Linked DNA regions of Homo sapiens: region 1 is linked to region 2. Evidence: fine-mapped expression QTL. Tissue or cell type: breast. Region 2 holds a variant in brackets; the other region holds the start of a gene. All regions are shown on one strand. Distances are between the middles of the regions.

What was found. PIP is the estimated chance that this variant, and not a neighbour inherited with it, causes the effect. A credible set is the group of variants that fine-mapping cannot tell apart.
Region 1: it holds the start of SLIT3-AS2, and the variant in region 2 is the best candidate, but not a certain one, in a credible set for the expression of SLIT3-AS2 in breast (GTEx, PIP 0.70).

The regions. Positions count from the first base shown.
Region 1 is chr5:168,703,464-168,711,647 of GRCh38, forward strand. SLIT3-AS2 (SLIT3 antisense RNA 2) reads left to right here and starts at 3,464. Exons shown (of 7, transcript NR_130737.1): 1 at 3,464-3,804; 2 at 4,974-5,184; 3 at 6,592-6,737. It overlaps SLIT3 (slit guidance ligand 3), which reads right to left. Exons shown (of 36, transcript NM_003062.4): 25 at 7,432-7,595; 26 at 4,513-4,637.
Region 2 is chr5:168,554,185-168,562,368 of GRCh38, forward strand. PANK3 (pantothenate kinase 3) reads right to left here. Exons shown (of 7, transcript NM_024594.4): 5 at 7,209-7,332; 6 at 4,848-4,973; 7 at 1-3,437. The coding sequence ends at 3,387. MIR103A1 (microRNA 103a-1) reads right to left here and starts at 6,789; the gene lies at 6,712-6,789. It overlaps MIR103B1 (microRNA 103b-1), which reads left to right and starts at 6,720; the gene lies at 6,720-6,781. The variant G/C (reference allele first, on the strand shown) is at 5,085.

The DNA.
Region 1 (8,184 bases), 150 kb after region 2:
GGAGCACACACCCTACTGTGAACTGTGCATGCGAGGGATCTAGGTTGCACGCTCCTTATGAGAATCTAACTAATACCTGATGATCTGAGGTGGTACAGTTTCATCCTGAGACCATGCCCACCACCCTAGTTCCGTGGAAAAACTGTCTTCCATGAAACTGGTCCCTGGTGCCAAAAAGGTTGGGAATCAACCTTTAAAAGACACTGGGGGCTGGGCGCAGTGCCTCACGCCTATAATCCCAGCACTTTGGGAGGCCAGCGTGGGCGGATCACAAGGTCAAGAGATTGAGAACATCCTGGCCAACATGGTGAAACCCTGTATCTACTAAAAATACAAAAATTAGCTGGGCGTGGTGGTGGGCATCCCAGCTACTCAGGAGTCTGAGGCAGGAGAATTGCTTGAACCCAGGAAGCAGAGGTTGCAGTGAGCCGAGATTATGCCACTGCACTCCAGCCTGGCAACGGAGTGAGACTCTGTCTCCAAAAAAAAAAAAAAAAAAAAAAAAAAGACACTGGGAACAGCTGCCCTCATTGGAAACCTCTTTCTGAGATCGCACGAGGAATGCTGCTAAGTCCTTACTTCTCAAAGCGTGCTCCTTGGACTAGTGGCACTGGCATGTCCTGGGAGCTGATTAAAAAAAAAAAATGCACACTCTCAGGCCTGACCTCGGATCTAATGAACTAGAACTTGCATTTTAATAAGCTCTCCAGTGATTCTTATGCACACAAAAGTTTGAGAAGCACTGTTCTGAGACATTGAACATATGTGCCTGAAACTAAATGGCTGAAAAAGAATCAGCCAACAGATATATTTTTTCCCCAAATCTTAACATAATGGCAAAATACTGACCCTTTGTGAAGTATCTACTGAATCCTGGCACTGAGGTAGGCAAAGTACACACACAGCCCCTTTTCATCCTTCCAACAGCCCTGCACATGAGTATGAGTATTCTCAGTTACAGGTGGGGAAAGTGAGGCTTAGGGAGAATCTGACTTGGAGTGGTTGTGAGTGTAGAGACTTTGTTGCAAGAGATAGCTGAGCTCTGGTTGTAGCTCATGCACTTCCTAAGTGTGAGAGCTTGGGTAAATTATTTCATCTTTCTGAACCTTAGTTGTTTCATCTATTAAAAGACGATAATAAAACTTATTTCACAAGGTGATTAAGAGTACTACAAGAGATAATGTGTTTAAACTGCTTCACAAAGGCCTGGCATTATAGTAGATTAAGAGTAGCTGCTACCAAATGTTACACAGTGATTCCTGTGCTTTTTTATAATATTGTGGCTTCCCAAGGTCACTCAGCTAGTCAATGGGAAAATGGAGATACCTGGAAAGAGGTAAATGCCTGAACTTTGAGCTTGGTTTTGTGGGTATCTGGGGATTTCTGTTAGCCACTCATGCAGAACTACCATCTTAGTCGCTCTGTTTGGGCGGGCTCTAACCCCGGCAAGAAGGAAAGCAGGGACATAGCACAGAGAATTTGATGCAACCCTCAGTTAAAGGATCCCTTGGGTTCAACCTCCTCCATTTTACAGCTGAGGAAACTGAGGTGAGGAGAAGAGCGAGTTCTGTCCAAGGTCATGCATCACATAGGCACAGGCTCCAGAGGGTCCTGCTTGGTGTTCTTCCCATGGCTACACTCTACTTGTCTCTAACCTGGAAATTCAGACAGGTCCTAAATAGTCAGGGATCTTCCACCTTAGCCCCTGCAATCACTGCACTTGCCAACAGGCAGTGAGTGCAGTGGCCAGGAGCACAGCTTCTAGAGTCAGTTGGTTCTGAGCTTTGAATCCCAACTCCCTTACCTACCATGCTCAGTTTCTTCAACTGTAAAATGAGGGTCATTTTAGGAACTGTATTCTAGGGCTCTGATGAGGAGTATGCAAGATAATACATGTACCTTATTTAGTCTACTGTCAGTACATAGTAGATACTCAATAAATGCTGGCTCTTATGTTACTGTTATTATCATAGTTATCATCATCATCACCACCATCTGTACCATTAGCACCATTACCATCATCAACACCATCACCATTGTCACCTTTGTCATCATCACCGATACCATCACCATCATCACCTTCACCATCATCATCTTCACCATCACCATCAACATCATGCACCCTAGACCTGCCTGGGCTCAACACTTTCCTCAAGATCAAAATCTCTGTTCACATTCTTCTAAAATTGACATGATGTTCAGAATCTTGAGAACAAAGTTCAAACAAGTGGCCTTATCCTGCAGTAGCTCTGAAGATACTCTCTTTGCTCTGACACTGACGGTCAGGTCATGCTTCATAGTACAGTCAAGTGTAGCTGGAAGAAGCCTGGACTTCAAACCCAGCTCTACTACTTTCAGACTCAGGCCAGTTTTAAAGAGAAGGAAGCAAGAATCAGAATGTGAAACAGTTTACCTTATCTTTAGAATGGGGATGATACTACCCATCTCATAAGCTGATTATAAAAATCAGAGAAGAAAATAAATGCATAAGCTCCAGATGAGTGCCTGGCCTTTATTGATGATTCAAAAGAGAACTATACTATGTATGGAATTGAGAATGTTACAAATGCAGTCACAGTTCTAGGAGAATGACTGAAGTTTCTTGGCAGTTCACAGTGCCATAGACTGATAATCCTGGATCAAACTAGCAACATACCACCTGTTACTGATGGCCTATTCCACACCCAGGTATGAGGGACCACCATGCAAGGGTAAAGGTGAAAGGCAGCAGTATGCCAGCTTATTGAGTGCTCACTGAATGCCAGGTATCATCCTAGTGTATTGCGTACATTACTGTACATTTGATTCTTACGGCAAACCTATGAGACAGGTCCTAGTTTGCAGCTGGGAAGACAGATGAAATTACTAGCAATGGCTACACAGCTAGTAAATGACAAAGCTGGAATCCACACCTGCTTCTCTGTGTAATTGCACAGTCTGAATTTTCTCTGCTGAATCCATACAAGGGAGTTTGAGAGGATCCACACATCCTGAGTATGTCTGCTGTTAATCTCTATTCTCCCCTCCTATTATTTTTTTTGTGTGTGTGGGTGCCCTGTGACTGAATTTATAACATTCTCAATTCCATACATAGTATAGTTCTCTTTTGAATCATCAGTAAAGGCCAGGCACTCATCTGGACCTTATGCATTTAGTCTCTTCTCTGATTTTTATAATCAGCTTATGAAATGACGGTGTATGGGTCTGGGACTCAGTGGTAAGTTTAAGACTTTGGAGGTGGCTGGCTTCAAAGGGAATCCTTTGGCTCTCTTGTCCCAGGCCCATAGGTGGCACTCTGACACCATCTGCTAGAAGCACAGCCATCGTCTAGAAATACATCAGGTAGTCCCATTCCCCAGAATGAGGCTGCCTCTAAGCCTGTCACTACGCACACACAATCCCACTGGGGGCAGAGACCTGGGGATGCCAGCTCACTCTCACTCCACCTGCATCAGATGTGTGCATTAGACAGGCTGTGGGGCTGTCCTGAAACTCTGCGCTTGCCCAGTGCCTTTGGATGGGTGCCCTGGGAAGGCTGGAAGCTGGGCGGGCCCTGCAGAAGAGGATGGAGCCACAGCTTTGCTGATTCCAGTGAAGCCCAAGGAAGGGCTCAGCTATCCAGGAAACCCTCCAGGGGAAAAGGATTGGGTTCTGGAATCACAAAGCCCAGGGTCTTAATCACAGCTCTACTGCTTACAAGCTTCGGACATTGAGTTGAACTCTTGACAGTCTGAGGCCCAGTCTCCATATCCGTAAAAAGGGAATAATGAGGCCTTCTTAGGTTTGCTGGGGGTGTTTGAACAGGTGAGTAAAATGCCAAGCACAGTACTTGGCACAGTCTGTACTCGGTAGGTGCTGGTGAGAGGCACATGGTCGATATCCACAGGGGTCAGCAGAGGGGCATGACACCGTGCTCTGGGTGAAAGAAGGAAGGACTGTCTTGGAGGTAGTCTGGGAGGACAGAGGGGAGAACTGGGATCTCATCCTCTTGCTGGCTGATCTTAGCCGATCAACCTTTTGGGTGAGTTTGCAGCCCCTAGGCCTTTCAATCCCCAATCCCTATATTTACATCAAGCTGGAACCAGCACTTTCAAGGCTGGTTGCTCTGAGGGTGGGGTTTGGCAGGGGCATGGTGGGGTGGAGGTTCTGGAAATCCCTTTAGAAGGGAAATTGGGAGAGTGGGCTCAAGGGATGCCTCTACTTGGAAACACTTTTTCTCTGAGACTTAATTTCTCCATGTTTCACAAAGAAAATACAAATGTTACATTTCCTCTTTCTCTCTGGACATCCTTGTCAAGACCATATGGGGGCCTCTCTGACTGGCAGCTCCCGCTAGTTCAGAGAACAGTGTTACTGGCAAATGCTGCTTTGGAGTGGTGACCTGTGCGATGGACTCATCCAGGCTGTCCCTTGGAGAAGGGAGGGTACGCAGGGCATGGTGCCCCTCTCTAGGGCCAGGGCTGAAGGAGGAGCCTGAGGCATGAACACGGGGGGGCAGGGCCTCCAGCATACCTTGTAGCTGTAGGGGCAGGCACAGCGGTACAGCTCCACAGGGTCCTGGGTGCATGTCCCGTTATTCTTGCACGGGCTGGAGAGGCAGGCATTGCATTTGGCCACAATGTTGATGTCCACTGGCCCTGGGCAGCAAAACCAGAGTACTGATGGCAGGTCCTGAGTGCGCTCACTGCCATACCTCCCTTCCCCTCTGCTCTGGGCCCTCCCTCAGCCAGCGCCAGCCCCTTCCCAACTCCATGCCCAGATGGCAGCTGGCTCTCCTCAGCCAGCACATCCAGTCCAGCTAGAGTCCCATTAATTCAGCCACTGTCCAGTGAGGAAAAATCACAGTGGGACATCATTCAGAAACACTTCTGCAGTCAAATCAATTACTGTAATTAGCCTGATCCGATTTTGGTGCTAATCTGCAAACAATGCACCATAATTAGAAACCCCCTGTGTATCTTTTCATATTCCAGGAAGCTCTGGGCCCAGGCTCCATTCGGACCTCCCATTTTTCTACCCACAAACACCCCTCCCCATGGAATAGTCTGTGCCAGGCTAAGCAGGGCACAGTGCTTGGGCCAAAGGCACACAGAGGAAGTCCCCCCTGGAAAACCTTGGAAGAAAGAAATGGATGGCCCCAGAGGACACAGCGATGATGCTGACAATGGACAGAAAACTGCTCAGGTACATGTTACGTCTGTGACCGTTTCAGCCGTGTGCTTGCTTTAGCTGCGAGCACTGGAGGGAGGTCAGGGTCCTTCCCAGAGCTTTGCAAAGGGGGCTGTGTCCTGCTGCTGCAGCCAGCTTTGACAATGAGCCCTGGATAAACAGGCCATATTTAGTGTCAGGACTATAAATGACCTTGGGGTTAACAGTTATCAACTTGGAGATGGGCTGAGATGAACTTCAGTGAGTGACTGTTTGTGGATGAGTAAAAAGAATGGCCTGATTGAGAGCTGGTACCAGGGGCTCAACCCGACTTCACATTAGAAGAGGAAGACTATCTGTCTTGGTTTGCTTGGGGCTGAGGGGGTTTGCAGGACACAGAGCTTTCAGTGCTAAAACCAAGAATGGCCCAGACAAAACCCAGATGACTTAGCTGCCTTACACTACCAGCTACAGTGTTGTTTTCTGTTTGTTTTTTTTTTTTTTTGAGATGGAGTCTCACTCTGTTGCCCAGGCTGGAGTGTGGTGGTGCAATTTCGGCTCACAGCAACCTCCACCTCCTGGATTCAAGCAGTTCTGCCTCAGCCTCCCAAGTAGCTGGGATTACAAGCATGCGCCACCACACCTGGCTAATTTTTGTATTTTTAGTAGAGATGGGGTTTCCCCTTGTTGGGCAGACTGGTCTTGAACTCCTGACCTCAAGTGATCTGCCCGCCTCAGCCTCCCAAAGTACTGGGATTAGAGGCATGAGCCACCGTGCCCGGACCCTGGCTGCAGTGCTTTTAAAAGTCCCCACACCCAGGTTGTACCCCAGACCAATTTAATCTAAACCTAGAGGGTGGAGCCAGGCTTCAGTAATTTTAAAAGCTCCTGTATGATGTCCAAATGTGCAGCCAAGATTGAGACCTATACTGTTCTTGGCCTAGGTGAGCCTCTTTAGTATCAGATCAGATAGCTTAGAAGCAGGAGGAGGAAAATTAAAATTAGCTTTAAGCCAATGGAATGTTTTTCTGCTTGCAGCAGAAGTGTAGGACACACTAAAGTTTGAGAGGGTAATTAAAGTGTATCTATATATCAAAATAAGTATTAAGCCTCTCAGAGATGAGCAAAAGAGATTATCAAACAACTGTGTATACAAATGAAAAGTACGTTTTTGATGAAAAATTCAGGTTCCCCAATAATCAAAGACAAAATAAAAGGAGTTTTTTTTTTTTAACCTATTGAATTAGCAATGAGAAAATAAGAGAAAATAATGAGAGTCTAATGAAAAATGCAACCAAAGGATGCTACTGGGAATGTAAATTGGTTATAACCCTTTTTGAAAATCAATTTGGCAAAATGTGTGAAGACCTTAAAAATAATAATGTACTTTGATTCAGTAATTTCTATTCTCTGAGTCTTATCTGAGGACATGATTTCAAACAGAGAAAGATCTTTATGTGTCAATGGTAAGACAAAAAAATGGAAATACTCGAAAGATTCAAAACCAGAAATGGATTAAGTGGCAGTGGAGTATTATGGCTTGGTGATAAAGACTGCGCATTCTGGAATCAGATGGACCTGGAAGCCTGGTAAGCCTCAATTTTCTCATTTTTAAAAATGAGGATAATATTAAAAGTTGATCACATAGAGGTATTAGAGAATTAAATAAGTTGTTACATGAAGAATGAGAAGAAAATACATGAGACAGTGCTTACCATCATTCCTGTTGCATACAAACTCAGTAGTAGTTTGTTGTTATAATATGATCAATAAAAAAATCACATGTACAAAAGTTTGCTGGATAAAATGGGAAAATGCTTATGTTTTAATAATGTTGGATTAAAAAATGCAGGTTGAAGATTTTTCTCAAGGCCAGGTGCAGTGGCTTATGCCTGTAATCCCAGCATTTTGGGGGGCCAAAACAGGAGGATCGTTGGAGATCAGGAGTTTGAGACCAGCCTGTGCAACATAGTGAGACCTTGTCTCTACAAAAGATGAAAAAAAAAAAAAGATATTCTCCACTATGGAAAGACATGTACAGAAAGAAGTCAGTGAGGAGATGTGTGGCAATGCCAGCAGGGAACTTGGAGAGAATGACACTTGGCCCATTAGATGAGGGTTCACATCAGCGTCAGCATCTGAGCCTCTTTGTGGGACCCATGGAAGAGACAGGGTGAAGGTTTCTGAAGCCACATCTGTTGAGATACCCTGCTCTGACAGGTTGCTGGGAACACAGCAGACCCCAAGAGGGGCAGGGGAGGGTGGGGTGTGGGCGTCACCTACCTTTGCACTGGAAGCGGTGGGTTGGGGTGGTGAGCAGGAGCCTGTCAGCCATGGGCTCAGGGCTACTGCAGCGGGCGATGCCAGGCTCCTTGTACCCCGCCTTCACCCACTCCGACAGCCACCGAAGACTGCAGTCACAGTGGAGTGGGTTGGTTCCCAGCGCCCTAGGAGGCAGAACAGGAAGTCAGGGCCCCCTGCCCAGCTTGGCCAGTAGCCTTCATATCCTTGGCTCTCTGGAAATGCATTTTCAGACTTTGGCTAGACTGGAGGTATCCAATATGGGGCCAGCGGAGTAGTCGTCTCCACTGTGGCAAAGTTAATATCTCCAGAGTGTACTTCCAATCCTGTGGAAGTTTCAACTCCCATCCCAGCCCCTTCCACTTCTGAGGCGTGGCTCTCACCTACGCAAGTAAGACTCACTCTTCAACTCAACCCCATCCTAGCTCCTTTAGGGAGCTTCCTGGATCACTGGCCATCTGATTATCTGGTTCCCTTGCCCTGTTGAAGGGTCCACTGGAGGATATACTCTGCAGAGAAGGTTCTGAAACCCAGCAACCTAGGGAGCAGCTTCAAACCACTTGGCTAGACTTTCATCCCAGTTGTGACTGGGACGAAAATACTAGAAATTCTGTTTTTTTTTTTAAATTATATCCTTTAACAATTCTACTTTTGAAAGTTTTAGAATATGCATACGTAGTATATCCGTATTATAGTGTATGCACACATTATGAAAATAATTAAATATGCATATAG
Region 2 (8,184 bases):
CCAATAGTTTAGTGAAGTTGTTTTGAGACTCTTGCTAATGGTTTAGGAAGTAGAAATGCTTGGGGATAAAATTGACTTCTATACATTACCAGTAAATCTAGATGTACTTTAAAGAGCTTAAAAAATTGTTTACATTACACAAGGTAAGTATCACTATGGGTTTTTTTGTTTACAGACCGCAGGTTTACTTAATAGTTTTCAGTAGACTATCAAGAGATGCATGATAAAGACATTTCCCCATGTAGTTTTCAAATTTTATACTCAAGTCCTTATATTCGATTACAGGCATGAGCCACTGCACCCAGCCTCAATTGTTTAAAATTCAGTTTTCTTTACCTGAAGATATGAATGTATGAATTATTAGAGTGGTTATTTAGGAGGAAAAGCGTGTAAAGTTAAGTTTTTAGAATTTAGACTGTTTGAAACTCTGAATTCATGTCAGTCAGTAGCCATTTTAAAACCCTACAATGACTTCATGTTCCTTGCTTTAATATTTCCATTGTAGTGACTAAATATTGGAGCCAAAATTCCATTAGTTCAATTTATTTTAAAAGTTTCTGATTTGTATATCTGTACAGATAAGAATCTTAATTGAATGACAGTAACTACAAGTTTTATACCTGTGGCAAATACTGTATTAGCATCTATAGATTTAGGGCAATCTTTAAGAAAAAATGGAATGGTCAGAGTCTAAGTTATTTCATCACTGTACTTTGGTTAATGTGAACTATGATTCATATATTTTATCCTTTCAAACTGAAATTACCTGCTAGAGTGAGCAACCATCTCACCACTGTGGCTCTTTAGCTTTTCCCATATGTAATCTAGAGGTACTGGAATAATAAGAACACAAAATCATAATGAAGGCTGCCAAAGATTATAATTTTTTATTAAGATCTCGAGTAACTCCCTGTAAGCTCACTGTGGTAAATAGATTTGGTTCTAATACCACAATTCCTCAAAGCTCTATGTTCTTAACGGTGCTGTCTTAATAGAAATAAAATGTAAACCATGTGTGATTTTATCTTTTCTAGTAAGCACATTTAAAAATAATTGGAAACAGATGATTCTTTTTTTTGAGACAGAGTCTCACTCTGTCGCCCAGGCTGGAGTGCAGTGGCACAATCTCAGCTCACTGCAGCCTCCTCCTCCTGGGTTCAAGCAATTCTCCTGCCTCAGCCTCCCAAGTAGCTGGGACTACAGGTGCGCACCACCATGCCTGGCTAATTTTTGTATTTTTAGTAGGCAGGGTTTTGCCACACTGGCCAGGCTGGTCTCGAACTCCTGACCTCAGGTGACCTGCCCACCCTGGCCTCTCAAAGTGCTGGGATTAGAGGCGTGAGCCACTGCGCCTGGCCAAGATTCATTTTAATTGTGTATTTTTCTTTAACCCAATATTTCCAATGTTAACATTTCAACATGTAATCAATACAAAAAATTAGGAGATATTTAACCTTTTATTGTCCTTTAGAGCACATCTCAATTTGGACTAACCATATTTCAAATGCTCAACAGCTACATATGGGTAGTGGCTACTGCACTGGACATCGAAGTTCTAGAACTCTCTCTTACAAATGAACACTATCACTGTCGTTGAAAACTTTCTTGAGATAGTTTATTTTATACAAACAAACTGTATTTCTTATTATTCCTGAAATATCTCATATTGGCATCCTGCCATTTCATTGTAGTGCCTATCATTTTTCCATTGATACTGATAAAGTTGCCTAAGACACAACTTCCTACATAGAGGAAATAAGAGGAACAAACCCCTTTTGGACAGAATCTATTAAAACTCATTCCACTATCCCTATGTACATAAATAACATTGCCTCTGCTGAGTGGAATTTGCATTCGTTACTTCAAAATTCAGACTCATCTACCTTTCCAAGTTAGACAGTTGGGGAAAGAACTTCCTAAATCTTAAGGTTGAAGGCAGAGGGCTCAACCCCACTCCAGATTCAGGCAAGGGGAATAGGAAAGAAAGTGCGAGATAAGAGCATGGTGGCCTCTTGGGGTCCCTTGATGGGGGCTGTTGGGAAGTGGAAGGCATTCTTTTAAGGGGATAAGAAGCAAATGGAAGACTTGCTCCAACTCTAGAGTTTTCAGAGAGTTAGAGGAGGTGGAGAGATTTACTCCTGCCATGGATCATATGCATTTCTACCATCAACTCCTGGTTTTGCAGTATTTTTATAAATGGAGTTTGGACCTTGGTGACACTCAGCCTCTCTTCCCCTTTTCCTATGTTGCTCAATCTTCCTTTCCCTCCTAGGTTCTTACACATTTCAAACCCTTGCCAATAACAGTATTTTAGTTATCAGGTCTCACCATTCCCTCTGGTTGTTGAGCCTTTGGATAAAAATCCACATGGCTATGGAGTGGGTTTTGTTGGAAAAAGTGACCGTCCTCTAACTGCACCTCTATTTCTGGCTCCTCAAACAGCAAAGGGTAATAATAAGGCATGGTAGAGGTTTTCCCATTTTTCAGTGACTAGACTGTGAATATTTACAGATGAATTTTCTATTATTAATGTTATTGTGGTTGTTTTAAAATAAAAGTTCTGAATGTATATATGACCAAAACAAACAAACAAAAAGAGCACAGTGAACTCAAATCATATTCCATTACAATAGTCCCAGGACTTCATTAGACAGACTCCCAGTAATTAAGCCTCCAATCTTAAAATGTTAAACATTTCAACATGTATTGACTAATTCCTGTAAAATACAGAAAGTGCAACATCACCAAACGTGCATTTCCCAGGATTCATTTTAGAATTCTCATGAAAATTTAATAATAGTATTTCAGTTAATTATGGCATTTGAGAAAAAGATACTAATGGGGAAAGATCACATACATGCTTTGGGTGATACGTTAAAAAAACCTACAATAATTAGTAGTATTGCCTTAACATTTCTAAAATCACATAAAAATGATCATCTTTGATTGCCATTTCAGTAATTTTGAATACAGGGTATGTTATTTTCTGCTCACTAGTAATCAAAACACATAAAACAGACTTGTAACAAATATTCAGAGTCGATTATTTTCATAAGCTAAACAGTTCCGATACTTTAAGATTTGTGTTTGAGCATACAGTACTGCAATGTTGGCTACATAAAATAAAAAAATCTTTTTAAGAGGAAGCTCAATAATCAGAGGCTGTATTGCATTTAAGGATTTAACACTGGCTATATACAAAAGGGAAAGCATTTCAATGAGAAATACTTCACGTTACCAAGTTCTCTCCTTTAATATGGCAACATTCAGCAGCTTATGCTACTCTTTTATCCTTTGGTTCCCAGTGACAAACAATGCAGTAATAATGCCTCTGGTTTTAGTTCCTCTTGGATGACATTTATTAGCAGAGAGAGAGACCTGATGCTTTAGCTGAAATTTGGCAGCCCAAGAAGTGCACCAACTGCTCCAAAGTAACCCTGTGTAATTTAAAAATAACTGTTATGTAGTACAGCTTTTAAGTTAGCATATAATATTAACCACTTGAGAACACACAACTATGCACAATCTATTTGTTTAATAATATTTGGAAACCTACCAATTTCTGCGTTGTTAGCTATTATAAAAAATTTTCTGAATCTGTATTCTTGATGTCTACACACCTTTGAAATATGTATTTTTATTTATTATTATTATTTTTAGAGACATGGTCTCACTATTTTGCCCAGGCTGGCCTTGAATTCCTGGGCTCACATGGTCCTCCCATCTCAGCCTCTTGAATAGCTGGGACTATAGGCTCACACTGAAATACGTATTCTAAAAGTGTGGCCTTTAGACACTAAAGCTTCCAGGACTGTAACAGCAATTCTGCACCCTCTCCCCTTTACTTAATAAAACAAACTAACTTCCTGTGGCTGTGCCTGACACTCTCACTGCATGCCATGTGGAATTGCACAAGGGCACACCATTCTGATTTGTATTGTGTGAGCAGTGACAATGAGACATGGAAGCTTTTTTTTTTTTTTTTTTTTAGACAGTCTCGCTATCACCCAGGCTGGAGTGGCTGGAGTGCAGTGGCGCCATCTCGACTCACTGCAGGCTCCGCCCCCTGGGGTTCACACCATTCTCCTGCCTCAGCCTCCCGAGTCGCTGGGATTACAGGCGCCCGCCACCTCGCCCGGCTAATTTTTTTTTGTATTTTTAGTAGAGACGGGGTTTCACCGTTGTTAGCCAGGATGGTCTTGATCTCCTGACCTCGTGATCCGTCCGCCTTGGCCTCCCAAAGTGCTGGGATTACAGGCATGAGCCACCGCACCCGGCCAAGACATGGAAGCTTTTAAGAGCAGAATAATTTGAATCTCTGTTACTAATTTGTAATGATACAGCCATTTGACTTTGATCACAAAATGATTCAAGTTAAGTTAATCCAAAACATTATGTGGACTGATAATTGCTCAGATCAGAACTTAACTGCATGTAGTAAATGAATACAAAAAAATCTGGGGGTGCCTAACAGGTTATTGTAATTCTCTTCCCCACAACTGAAACTGAAGCGAAGGAACCAATATTCTACTACTTAAGGCTGGGCATGGTGGCTCACACCTATAAAGGATTGCTTGAGGCCAGGAGTTCCAGACTAGCCTGGGCAACAAAGAGTGATCCTGTCTCCACAAAAAATATTAATAAAAATAAATTTTCTGGGCACAGTGGTGCATACCTGTGGTCCCAGCTACTTGGGAGGCTGAGGTGGGAGGATTGATGAGCCCAGGAGGAAGAGGCTGCAGTAAGCCATCATTGTGCCACTAAACTCAAGCCTGAGTGACAGAGCAAGACCCTGTCTCTTAAAAAACATGCTATTAAAATTCACAAAAAACATTTTCCTACCATACCTCATGTTCTAGAAACAATGCTTTTAGTTGACCTTTTGACCAGTAATCCAGTGCATATGCCAAAAGTTTCATTGAGAGGGTATTGACACGTAAAAAGTTTCCAACAAAGACAACTCTGTTTATTTTCTAAAAGAAAAGAACAAAGAAAAAACTTGTAAAAATAATAGATTTTACAATATAAAAGGTTTCTAAATATTTATTTAAAATTTATTTTAAAATGCAAAAAAACACAACTAC[G/C]CTTTATTAGTATAACACCTACTACATTCCTGGCATATAGCTGTATAATCCTGAATATTTAAAAATTAGTTCTGCACACATCATCCAAAATCCACAAAATGTGTAACACCAAGAGAGAACCCTAAATTATGGACTTTGGGTGATGATGATGTGTGCACAGGGTTATGGACTGTAACACATGATCACTCTACTATGGGATGCTGAGGATGGAAGTGGGCTGTGTGTGTATGGAAGGTGGTATATGGGAACTCACTGAGCTTTCCACTTAATTTTACGTGAACCTGAAACTGATCTAAAAAATAAAGTCTACTTTTAAAAAAAGGTTCCAGAAAGACTCTAGCAGATGATTTCAGGTGAGATTTGTTTTTGAAAATGGCCAATAAATAGCCCCCTTACAAAGTCATTTGGAGACACATTACTGATGTGATTAAAAAAAAAAATCAAAACATGGTAAGTACTATAAAATGCATTTAGTTGATAAGTAGCAAACTTGGCCCACACATTGCAATGCATGTTGAACAATGACATGCAACTGTGGATTCTACAGAATTGGAGAGTAATACTGACTGGGGTACTGGCATGTGCATTCCCCTAGGATTCTAGCATTCTTTCTCCGTCCCCTGCCTGATTCATCAAATCATTCTCTCTCTGCAAAGATTCCACACTAATTTGGTTTCTTAGATTATCTCTATGATTAGGAAATCTTACAAAGGGGAACTGGTGTTTGAATCACCAGAAAACTTATTTCGACTCTCACACTATACTGACTTTTGAGTAGAAATCTTTGTACATAAGTTGGGATACTGTAAACCATGGCCTAAATTATTGTTAACTCAATTGGTCAGTGGAAATTTAGACATAAAGGGCTAAGAATAAAGGTCTCAAATTGTTGTCAGCTCCCAACATGGTCTACTAGTAACTCCATCAACCAACTAACACTTAAGTTTCTAAGTTATTAAAAAACTGATGAGACCAAGTTCTGGATTTAAATACAGAATAATTCAGAGGATTTGCATATTTGTTCTCTCTGCTGGAAGCTTTCTCCCCAAAATGTCTACATGCACAGTTTCCCCCTCACCTCCTTCAAACCTCTGCCTAAGAATCACATTTTCAATAAAGCTTTCCTTTAACCACTCAATTACTTAGCAATTTGTCCTCTACCACTCTCTGCCCTATTCCCAATCCTCTTTATCCTGTTTGATGGTCTCTTTTTAAAAAAATAGCACTTATCACCTAATACACACTACACAATTTACTTAATATGTCACTAGAATGAATGCAAGCTCCACAAAGCCAGATCTTTGTTTTCTTCATTAATATGTTCCAAATACCCAGAACGATGTCTGGCATCTGGTAATCAGTAAATATTTACTCAATGAATAAATGAATGAATGAACAAATGAAGGGTTCCTTCGAAAAGCGTACTTCCCAATCCATTTAAAGTATTTGATATTTATAAAAATTAAACGGGCAAATATATCTATTATTATATAAGGAAGCTAGAATTAAATATATATATTCTCTTCCAAACAAAGAATCCCAACTATATGGTCAATCTAACAGTATATCCTTTTCACACTTTTCTTGTAACAATAAACACCACTCAAATATCATGAAGAACAGGTCTCAATGCCTTCATAGCCCTGTACAATGCTGCTTGATCCATATGCAACAAGGCAGCACTGTAAAGAAGCCGAGGGCAGTAAGAAAACTTCCAAGAATTTCACTAATCAAATGCAACATTAAGCACTGGTGGTATAGTGGTGAGCATAGCTGCCTTCCAAATGCAAAATTAAGACTAAAAAAAATGCTTTCACAAAGTATCTCAAAATGTCTTATGCTTAGAACTTTCTTTTACATCCTCAAGGGATTTAGGTTGTGTTTTTCTGAAAAAAAATTCTGAATAAATTTCTCCTATTTCAATTTGAATTATCTGCTACTTTCTTTAAAAGTAATATAGCAACTGGATACGTAACATATATACCTAATGAGTCTTGGCATTTAATGGGTTACATCTCAATCCCAGAGGCCTCCTTAGGGAAAGTGAAGAAGCCCTGCTAGGTGTATATAGGACTCCAATTCACATTTTTGATAATTCAAGTTTTGTGTTTTTTGTTTTTTTACCTCATTAACAGCACACATTCGTGCCACAGAACCAATGTTATTGGTGATAGTAACTAAAGTAGCTCTTGCCAGATCTTCTTTACTAACAGATTCTCGCTTCTCCTTATAAATCATATTCCCAAAACTGCAGAAAAATGAAAAATAAAGTCAAATCTGCTGATAAAAAGCAACATTTTACGTATTAACAGATATATCTACAACCTGGATATTTTTATAAAATTAGGACCAAAAAGTAGAAACACATAGGGATAAGATCAAAACAAACTAACAAAAAAAATCTATGCAAGAGTAAAGTAATACCTTTCAAAGAATTAAGGTTAAAATGACATCTCAAAAAAAGCATAGTTAGTTATTATAAGAAAGCAAAGATTACCAAAATATCTTCACTTAAACCTGATTCAAAACAAATTAGCCAAAATTACAAAATGTTTCCAAAAGTATCTCAGCTTTAACTTCAAATTCTTTTTCATTCAGTCACAAGAAACATTTATGACATACCAAGCTTTGTGCTGGAGACAGATAGTCCCTCAAACAGTGAATTAGTCTAGTGCAGCACTGTCCAATAGAAATAAAATACGAGTAATATATAATTTCATATATGTTCTATTAGCCACATTAAAAAGGTAAAAATAAACAAGTGAAATTAATTTTAATTGTACATTTCATTTAAGCCAATATATCCAAATATCATCAATTCAACATGTGGCACTCATAAGCCAAGTGCCTTACGTGGCTAGAGGCTACTGTAATGGACAATGCAGGCCTACATACAAAAGACAGCAAGAGAAGCGCTAACAGTAACAGGGAAAAAATCCAAACAAAGGCTAACCCCAAACAAAGGCTAACCTTGGAAATACAAACAAAAAAATATCTTTTATTACAGTGGTAAGAGAAAAAAGTTAAGAAGGTATGAGGCAGGGCTTTCAGAGCAAAAGGACCAGAAAAAGCCAGAAAAAATGAGAAGAAAAATCTTAGG